Regions from separate parts of the Homo sapiens genome. Here region 2 is linked to region 1. Evidence: fine-mapped expression QTL. A gene starts in region 1. The other region holds a variant in brackets. All regions are shown on one strand. Distances are between the middles of the regions.

What was found. PIP is the estimated chance that this variant, and not a neighbour inherited with it, causes the effect.
Region 2: its variant is fine-mapped to the expression of PLLP in whole blood (INTERVAL, PIP above 0.99).

What each region holds. Positions count from the first base shown.
Region 1 is chr16:57,282,122-57,287,632 of GRCh38, reverse strand. It overlaps PLLP (plasmolipin), which reads left to right and starts at 2,961. Exons shown (of 4, transcript NM_015993.3): 1 at 2,961-3,227. The coding sequence starts at 3,093. RefSeq lists silencers at 306-518, 2,768-3,177 and an enhancer at 3,222-3,883.
Region 2 is chr16:57,134,532-57,139,531 of GRCh38, reverse strand. CPNE2 (copine 2) reads right to left here. Exons shown (of 16, transcript NM_152727.6): 13 at 4,706-4,757; 14 at 2,250-2,383. Among named protein-coding and RNA genes, the nearest start is that of CPNE2, 44 kb to the right of the region's middle. RefSeq lists an enhancer at 4,250-4,299. The variant G/C (reference allele first, on the strand shown) is at 2,211.

The DNA.
Region 1 (5,511 bases):
TTTTCTGTTCTCAAAACTGGTCCAGCCTCAGGGCTCCTGCACTTATTAAATTCTTCCCCCAGAATTCCCAAGGCTAGCCCCTACTCATGATTTGGGTCTCTGCATAAATGTCACCTCTTCCCACAGGTCTTCCTTGACCACCTTAACCCAGAAATCACCTGTGGGTGACTCTGTGTCACATTCCCCCATTTTACTTTAGTCACAGCGTTTGTCACTATCTGAAAGTATTATTCCTCCCGGGTTTATTACTTCTCATCCCCACCAGACAGTGGGATCCAACGACTGAAATCCTATCATTTGTGGCAACACAGATGAACCTGGAGGACATCATGTGAGTGAAATAAGCCAGGCATAGAAAGACAAACACCACGTGGTCTCTCTCATATGTGGAATGAAATAAAGAAGTTGATCTCGGCCAGGTGCAGTGGCTCACGCCTGTAATCCCAGCACTTTGGGAGGCCAAGACAGGTGGATCACCTGATTTCAGGAGTTTGATACCAGCCTGGCCAACATGGTGAAACCTTGTCTCTACTAAAATTACAAAAAATTAGCTTAGCGTGCTGGCGGGCGCCTGTAATCCGAGCTACTCAGGCAAGAGAATTGCTTGAACCTGGGAGGCGGAGGTTGCAGTGAGCCGAGGTCGCGCCATTGCACTCCAGACTGGGCAACAAGAGCAAAACGCCATCTCAAATAAATAAATAAATAAATTGATCTCATAGTAGAGTAGAATAGTGGTTACAGGAGGCTGGGGTGTAGTGGGAGGATACAAAGAGGTTGGTTAACAGGTACAAAGTTACAGTTAGGGCTGGGCATGGTGGCTCACACCTGTAATTCCAGCACTTTGAAAGGCCAAGGCGGGTGGATCGCTTGAGGCCAGGAGTGCGAAACCAGTCTGGGCAACATGGAGAGACCCCATCTCTACAAAAAAATTTAAAAAAATTAGTCAGGGCTGGGCCCAGTGGCTGATGCCTGTAATCCCAGCCCTTTGGGAGGCCAAGGTGGGCGGATCACAAGACCAGCCTGGCCAACATGGTGAAACCCAGTCTCTATTACAGATACAAAAAATTAGCTGGGCATGGTGGCTCGAGCCTGTAATTCCAGCAAGACTCCATCTCAAAAAAAAAAAAAAATTAGTTGGGCATGGTGGCGTGCACCTGTAGTCCTAGCTACTAGGGAGGCTGAGGTGAGAAGATCACTTGAGCCTAGGGGTTGGAGGCTGCAGTAGGCTATGATCATGCCACTGCCCTCCAGCCTGGGTGACAGAGTGGGACCTCGCCTCAAAATAAATAAAAGTAAAAAGAAAAAAATACCAATATTGTACATTTCTTTTCTTTTTTTGTTTTTGTTTTTAGATGGAGTCTGGCTCTGTCACCCAGGCTGGAGTGCAGTGGCATGATTTCAGCTCACTGCAACCTCTGCCTCCCTGGGTTCGAGTGATTCTCCTGTCTCAGCCTCCTGTGTAGCTGGGACTACAGGCACCCACCATCATGCCTGGCTAATTTTTTTGTATTTTTGTAGAGACAGGGTTTTGCCATGTTGACCAGGCTGGTCTCAAACTCATGACCTCTGGTGATCTGCCTGCCTTGGCCTCCCAAAGTGCTGGGATTATAGGCGTGAGCCACAGCGCCTGGCCCTAATATTGTATATTTCAAAATATGGTAGCTAGAAGTGGGGATTTTGAATGTTCTCACCCCAAAGAAGCCATAAATGTATGAGGTGATGGATATGCTAAGTACCTTGATTTGATTTTTTTACACAACGTACACAGGTACCAAAACATCACATGGTACCCCATATTTAGGTACAATTATAGGTTGCCGAAAAAGTAATTGCGGTTTTTGCTATACTTTTATATGCAAAAACCGTATAACTTTTGCACCAACCTAATATTACATGTCAGTTAAAAACAATTTTTTAAGTGGCTCTCTTTTTAAGTGGGTATTTGGGAAAAAAAAAATGTGGGAGCCAAGAAGGCCTTGTCTACTTCGTTTCCTGCTGTATCCACAGGGCCTGGCATGTAGTAGGTGTTCAGCAAACATTGGTTGATGAATGCATGATGACCTATCTGTGCAAACCTCTAGGCTCAAGAGGTGTGTGTGTGTGTGTAAGTATTTTAGGGTGCATGTGTGGCAATGAAACTGTATATGACCTCCCATCTTCTGAGTGACCCCTCCTCCCTCACGCTGTCAGGAGCTTTCTGGGGAATATTTCATTTATTCCCTACAACGCTCTGTGAGGCAGGTTTCCTTCGTATCTATATGACAGACGAGGAAACTGAGGCTCCGCGATCATCTAAGTTATATAAAATATGTTCAGAAGTGAAAACAGCATTAATAGGCAGAAAAGGACCTCCCCCTTCTACCGCTTACCCACCGCTTACCCAGACCCTCCCCTTCCCCGCGCTGGGTCTCCCAGGATTCTTCTTTACTTTCTTTTCTATAAAATACAGACGGGGGGAGGGGGGGCGTCTCACTGTGTTACCCAGGCTGGTCTCGAACTCTTGGCCTGAAATTATCCTTTCACCTTAGCCTCCCAAAGTGCTGCGATCAGAGGCAGGAGCCACCGCATCCAGCCTTCTCCCGGGACTCTTCAAGAGTCGCTGCGCCGGGGCCTAGGCCGAGGGTGCACAGCGCGTAGAAAGCGCCTGGGAGAGCGGTGTCCCCCGCGAGCTACCACAAGTTTATCCCTAGGCGCGGAAGCTACCACGGCCTGGGCGAGAGCCGGGAAATTCCCAGCGGGCGGCTTGCCCCGGGGGAGGCCGGCGAAGCGGTCTAGGCTGGTGCTGGCGGAGCCGATTCACGGACCCGGGGTTGTTTACTGGTCCGGGGAGTGGACGCGGCTGCCCACGAACCGGTCGCGGCTGGGGCGGCGGCGGCGAGCAAAGGGTTAAGGGGGCGGCCCCGGCGGCGGGGGCGGAGCCGGGATCTCGGCCGCACCTGGCGCCCCAGGCTCCCAGCCCCGACGCCTCCTGCAGCGCCTGGAGCCACACAGGGATCCGGAGCCTGGGGGAAAAGCGGCGCGGGAGCCGGCACCCACCGCTGGAGGGGCGGCGACGGCGGCCGTAGCGACCTCGGGAGGCAAGCGGAGCCGCCATGGCCGAGTTCCCGTCGAAAGTTAGCACGCGGACCAGCAGTCCTGCGCAGGGCGCCGAAGCCTCGGTGTCGGCGCTGCGCCCGGACCTGGGCTTCGTGCGCTCCCGCCTCGGGGCGCTCATGCTGCTGCAGCTGGTGAGAGCACGCGCGGGCCCACGGGGTTGGCCGGGGGCTCCCGGTCCGGCCAGGATGGGTGAGGGACTCCGGCGCTGCGTTCATTTTTCGCGAACCTTGCGCTCCCCACCCGGGCTCACACTGTCACCGACGCGCTGCGCGTACCCCTAGGGCGCTTCCCGCACGGACGCCCCCAAGATCGCCCTGCATCCCTCTCACCACGACACTACCCCGTGGCCGTCGCTGCGAGCGTGAGCACCCTGCACCGTGTACAGAGTGCCCACTGCCCGTGCCCCATCGTGCCCCCTCCAAGGTGGTTACCAGCGGCCACAGAAGCCCCCACCGGAGCCACAGTCACTGCGCACAACCCGCCAACCCTTCCCAGCCCTCCCTTCCCTCCTCTCTCTTTTTCACCCCTCTTTCTGCCCGGACAGTGCCCCCAGCCCTCTAGGGAACCCAGTCTGAGGCAAAGTCCACTCTCTGACCACCTTCTGTCCCGCTCCCAGCGGCTCCGGGTGGCCGCACCCATGAACATTCCTCATCTAATCTAGAGGGCACATCCGACTCCCCAACACGCACACTCAGGCACTACCCTGTGGGCGCCCGCGCGGGAGCCGGGCTCTTCTAGCTTTCTCTGGGTGACCCGCCAGGTTTCAGCCGGTTTAGCCAGCCCCACGGGACCGAGATATCGCTGGAGGGAGGGGTTTGTGGGTAGCCAGGGGCAAGACTCCTACTCTCTCCCAGACCCCTGTACAGACCCCAACTGAGGCGGACCCATGGGAACATCCTCCACTCCCACACCAGCCACAGGCCCGGATGTTAGCTTCTTCCTCTGCCACCCTTTCGTGAGGGTCTGGAAGCTGGGTGGGTGCCCTGGGTGGGTGAGGGCCTGATACATTTTCAGAGGACTCAGGTGGAATTGGAGTTGGGCCAGGACCTGTATTTCTTAGCAATCCAGCGAGTGGACATTTCCCATTGTCTCCTATTGCTGGGTGCTAGCGCTGCTGCGAGGCCCAAGCTAGAGGGCAGGGTGGTTGCTTTGGTGCCAGACCCTGGGCTGAGGTCCAGTCTCCCTTCCCTGACCTCTCCAGGTGCGGGCCCACCTCTACCTGGGTCAGTGCTATCTCATTTCAGGATTTCTCAGATCTCTGTGGGCCCCCTCCCCAACCTCTGAATCTCCTGGCGGGTTTGTTTAAAATTTAGATTATTGGACTCCACCCCCGGAAAAAAATGTGCAATCGGAATTTGAATCTCAGGAAGTACAGCCAGAAATTCATTTTTAACAGTTCTCCCAGAGTTTTTTGTTTGTTTCTCTTTTGGGGGGTGGGGGAGAAGGGGAGAAGATTCTGTCTTCTGAGGGAAGAGGTCTAGTTCCTGGAATCATTTAATTCTGCAGATGGGGAGAGCCACTGACCCCGCCACCGCTAGAATGCTCTGCTCTGGGCTGGTTGTGAGGGGCACAGCCATGAGCAGCTGCCTGGCTGCCCAGGGGAGAGCCAGGTGGGTGTGAGAAGTGGTGCGAAAGGGCAGAGGAGAAGGAGAGCAATTTCACGACCAGGAAGGCTTGTTGGAGGAGGTGGTTTTTGAGCAGAGACTTCACTGAAATCTGAGGCAGACGCAGGGAAAGGGTGTTCCAAGGGCAGGGAACAGTGTGAGCCAAGATGTGGTGATGAGAAAGTTGAATTAATTTGCAGGGAGTAGCCAACAGGTTGGTGGTGCTGGAGTTGAAGCACTTGTTTCTGGTGTGGACAGAAGCCAAGGGCCTTGTGTAACTTCTGCGAGCTACAGGGTCTAGGTTCTGTTGGTGGCCTTAAGAGGTTTTGGAACAGAAGAGGGATCTTGCTGGGTGGAGGATGATGACTGGCAAGATCCCTGTGAGGGATCCCTCAGCATCCCTGGTGAGGTGGATCCTGAGGCTGGCCCCTGATGGACAGGAGGATTGCTTGTGGCCAGAAGTTCAAGACCAGCCTGGGCAACATATTGAGACCCTGTCTCTACAAAAAAAAGGAAAAAAAAAATAGCCAGGCATGGTGGTATGCGCCTGTGGTCTCAGCTACTTGGGAGGCTGAGGTAGGAGGACCCCTTGTGCCTGGGAGTTTGAGGCTACAGTGACTTTGATCGCACCACTGCACTCCAGCCTGGGTGACAGAATGAGACTTTGTCTCAAACAGACAAACACACACACAAAAAAAAAAAAAGAAAAGAAAAAAGAAAGAGACTAGCAATAGGGGCAATAGGGGGAATGGAAGGCATTGGAGTAAGAGGAGGATGTTGCTGCTGTGGGCCGCAAGGGTCTTGGTAGCTT
Region 2 (5,000 bases), 150 kb after region 1:
GCCCATTCCCAAAAAGACCCTCTTCTTGCCTGGGGTCCAGTATGTCTTTGCAGGACTAACAAATCAGCTACAGATTGGAAATTACAGTTTAGGAGTCATGCAGCCTCTGGCTCCAAGAGTCTGAACCTCCCCAAATTGGGGATGTCACTACTGTGAAACCTAAGATCAGTGCTTGAGATATTTTGCAGACCCTGCACTCCATGGATCAGCTGTCACCACCCAGACTGGTAATCTGGCTCAGTCAGTTCTGCCATTGCACCCAGGAACAGAAGACAGCAAGAAAAACTCACTTCAGACAGCAAGAAAAACTCACTTCGACCCCCTATGATTCCATCTCCAGCCTGACCAATCAGCACTCCCCACTTTCCAAGCTTCTACTCGCCAAATTATCTTTAAAAACTCTGATCCCCAAATGCTCGGGGAGACTGATTTGAGAAATAATAAAAGTCCGGTTTCCTGCACAACCGGCTCTCTGTGAATTACTCTTTCTCCATTGCAGTTCCCCTGTCTTGATAAATCATTCTTTCTAGGCAGCAGGCAAGGTGAACCCACTGGGCAGTTGCACTATCTTTCCCACCACCTCCCGGAAGTCAACTGCCACCTCCCTGGTGACCAGGTGCCTCCCTCCCTTGGCTGGTCCCAATGGTCCCCTTAGGCATGGGACCAGGTCCCTTTCCCTGGGGGAGGAGGCTCTGACTGAGCTTGTACAACTGACATCCCTCAGCCAGTGCTGACTTCATCCATTCACAGAGCACGATGAGCCTGCACAGCCCAGGCACTGGACCAGGCACGGAGAGAAGGATGTGAACTAGACATTGCCGACCATCATCAGGGTCAGCCAGGAACAGGCAGAGAAGGCAAGAGATCTGCTTCATATAGTGGTCAGGGAAGGCTGCTTGGGGGAGGAGGCCCTGAGGGAGGGCCTTGCAGAGTCCAGGAAGGACCTGCGGGGGAACAGCTAGGAGTGCTCGAGGAACACACGGGGGGTTAGGTGGCAGAATCATCCTAAGAGAAGGAAAGGGCTGTGCAGTCAGTGATCGGGTCGGTAAGGAAGGCAGAGGCTGGCCTCAGGGGATCCAATCTGATGGCGAAGGGTTTTTGGCAGGGCAGCGGCTGGATCTGACCCTCCAGTGGGGGAAACAAATGGTAGCTTGTGGACTGGTGGTGTGAGGAGTGGTGAAGGCAGCTGCAGGGTCCACTGAGAGACCTGTGGCCATGGGGAAGTGGGTGAATTTGGGATATTTTAGAGTCTAGTGAAATGAACACTCTAGAAGTGACTTCAGCAACCCTCTTCTTTCAATGGAGGTGGAAGATGAGAAAGGGGTGGGGGCTGGCCGAGGTCTCCCAGGAGGTAGTGGCCAGAAAGGAATTGGAGTCAAGTCTCCTCAACCCAGACCAGCATCTGGGCTGGGTGCCTGATTCCCCGTCACGGCGCTGGAGCGTGAGGAGCAGGGCTGAGTCAGGGGCTGAGAAGTCCTATGCATAGGGCATAGGTCAGTCAGGTCCCCAAGGTCAGGAGAAGGCAGAAGGGACATCAGATAACTGCCCTTAGGGCAGGGGGAGAAGACCTCTCAACTCATACTGCAGAGAGAGGCAAGGGCAGGTCATGGTGGAAATGGGGAGGTGGGCAAGGTGACCTTTGGTGACCCCACCACTGGCATCAGACCCTGCCAGTAGGGCCTGCCTGGGAGCCAGCCTGCAGCTGGGGGCGGGAGAAGGGAAGGGAGACCACGGTTGCAGATGCCTGGGATGGCTGCTTACCATATATTCCAGATGCCACGCAGCTACTTTGGCAGCCTCAGCCGGGCCAGTGAGGCTCTAGGCTTGTTGCTGAGTGTAGGGCCAGGGCCAGACAGTTCAGCAGCCCTCAGTGTAAGGCAGGGGCAGCTCTGATTGGAACTAGGTGGCTCAGAAGGGTCAGCGTTAGGGCCTCAGGGATCACTGCCTCCAGTTTTCCATCTTGTTACTCTTGTGGGAATAACCAGTACCTCGCCCTGGGGAGACATCTCCCGTTGATCACAGCCCTGCTTCCTGCTCAGCACGAATGGATTTGCTTTCTCCAGTCTGTGCTCCAGGAAGCCAGGACCAATCAAGTTGAGCTTGACTCAACTTTTACAATACGTGAAGGTAAAGCAAGGCCCAGAGGTGTCCACTAGGATTTAAAGCAAAGAGAAGGCAGAATATCCTGCCCCCCAGCCCAGAGGACGTGC[G/C]TGTTTCCTGGCATGACTGGCTTGCAGCTGCCTACTCACCGTGGCCGTCCGCTGTTGTGTGGCCTGGGCCGCAAACCGGGCCACGTGGTTGACGATGGGGGAGAAATTGGTAGGACCGTAGAAGCGGATGTGGGGCAGGCAAGCTGAGTACGCCTGGGCAATACCATCCACACCTGCCTCGGGAGAAGAGTCTGGATCAGCCAGGTCTCCCTGACCCCATACCCACTCTCATCTCACTGCTGATGAAACATCTATTTCATGCTTACCCAAAATGTCCCTGCCATGGCTAGCATAGGCCTTGTGAGACAGACTGGAAGCTGCCAGAGGGAAGGGCCAGCATGGTAAAAAGCCAAGAGCCCTGAATGTGAAGTCAGACAGGCCTGTAGAGTTTGAATCCTGCCTTTTCTTTGAGAGGAGTCTTGCTCTGTCACCCAGGCTGGAGTGCAGTGACAGGATCTCGGCTCAGTGCAACCTCCACCCCCCAGGTTCAAGCAATTCTCCTGCCTCGGCCTCCCGAGTAGCTGGGACTACAGGCATGTGCCACCACACCTGGCTAATTTTTGTATTTTTAGTAGAGGCAGGGTTTCGCCATGTTGCCCAGGCTGGTCTCAAACTCCTGACCTCAGGTTATCTGCCCACTTTGGCCTCCCAAAGTGCTGGGATTACAGGCATGAGTCACCGTGTCCAGCCTAAATCCTGCCTTTCTTAGCTGTGGGACCTGGGGCAAGTAGTTTAATCTTTCTGAGGCTACGTCTTTGTCTGTCAATGGGACTGATAATCTACACTCTGGCAGTTGGCAGGAGGGGGGTCTCTCAGGCCTTTCCAGAGAAGGGGCTTGGCGAAGCTTGCAGTGATGCTTTGAGACCATGGGAAGCCATCTGGAGGTCCATTCTGGACATGCTATGGCTTCTGTTCGTGGTTGGGGGATCAAGGCGTTCGCACAGTGCCTGTACAGAGTAGGCGCTCTGTAAATAGCTGCTGTTATGAGCACACTGCCCTGTAGCCCTGCCCAGAAGGCCTGGCCAGGGATGAAGCTGATTGACCAAAATGTCTCTGGAGATCTACCCCAAATCAGACAGCCTGGCCCAGCTTTGGGGATCCCCAGGGAAGGTAGATGCTATGTTGAAGCCAAGTCCTAGGCGGAAAGGTCTCATGATGATAGAAACAGCCCTCTTCCATACCCACCTGCATCCCCTCTCCTCCACTCAGAGTTTTCTTCCTCCCTTCCTCCATCCCTCCCTTCCTTCTTTCATCTTCCTTTTTCTTTCTTTCTTCCTTTCTTCCTCCCTCCCTCCCCTCCTCCCTCCCTTCCTCCTTTCCTTCCTTCCTTCCTCCTTCCCTCCCTCCTTCTCCCTTCCCCTTCCCCTTCCCTTCCTTTCCTTTCCTTTCTCTCTGTCTCTCTCTTTCCTTTCTTTCTCTTTTCTCCTTCCTTTTTTTTTTTTTTTTTTGAGACAGAGTCTCACTCTGTTACCCAGGCTGGAGTGCAGTGACATGATCTCAGCTCACTGCAACCTCTGCCACCTGGGTTCAAGCGATTCTCCCGCCTCAGCTTCCTGAGTAGCTGGGATTACAGGTGCGCACCACCACGCCTGGCTAATTTTTGTAGTTTTAGTACAGACGGGGTTTCACAATCTTGGCCAGGCTGGTCTTGAACTCCTGACCTCTGATCTACCCACCTTGGCCTTCCGAAGTGCTGGGATTAAAGGTGTGACCCTCCCTTCCCCTCCCCATCTCTCTTTCTTTCCTCCCACCTCAGCTTCCTGAGTAGCTGGGACCACAGGCATATGCCACCATGCCTGGGTAATTTTTTTAATTTGTAGAAATGGGGTCTCCCTCTATTGCCCAGGCTGGTCTTGAACTCCTAGGCTCAAGTGCTCCTCTTGCCTCAGCTTCCCAAAGTGCTGGGATTACAGGCATGAGCCACAGCATCCGGCCTCTAATAGTTTCTTAACTGTCCCTAGGAGGCTCAGAAATCCTCTTAGGCCCAGGGGTGGGGATGAACACAGACACCATACTCACTTCCCAGCCCCTGCCTCCCCCTGATCCCCCGCCAAGTACTCCCAGAGCAGGGCTGGCCTTCCCAGCAAGGGGGCGGGTGGGAAGGAGGTGAAAGCAGGTGTGTCTGGTGCCACCCTCACCTCCTCCTGGTTTACACAGGACTTCCTGTCAGTGGCTTCCTGTAATTCTCACTGAACCACCCAGTAAAGTGAGAAGAGCAGCTGTCATAGTTATCCTGGAGCAGGTAAGGAGGCAAAGGCCCAGGAGGTACAGTGACCTTTCCAAGGTCCCACAGCTAGGAAGGGCAGCAGCTGGCCTTGAATCCAGGACTATCTGACTCCAAACTGCAGCTCTTCCCCCTCTGTCACTCTGAGCAACAGTAAGGGGGAGGGGAAAGGAGAAAGAAATGAAAACCTGTCCTCTGCCCTCCCTCCACCCAGGGAGCTGGCCAGGCCCGTAGCAAACACAGGGCAGCTGCAGGTGGGTCTGACACTCACCTGAGCAGAAGGGGTTGGTGGGGTTGAAGTTGATGGCAAACTCATGGGAGACCTGAAACGCAGAGAAAACGCTGAGCTGCAGCCTCCCGCCCCCAAACCCAGACCCAGGCCACCACCCACTGCCAGGCCAAGGCTCCCTTTGAGAGCACCGGCTCATAACCCCCACCCCTACCCTCCTCTAGGCCACTGATACCCCCCACATCTGCTTTTCACCTCCACTGCTGGGTGTGACCCACAGAGAGGCCCAACCACCCTCTCCTCATAGTGGAGGAAACTGAGACCCTGGCAGGTCACC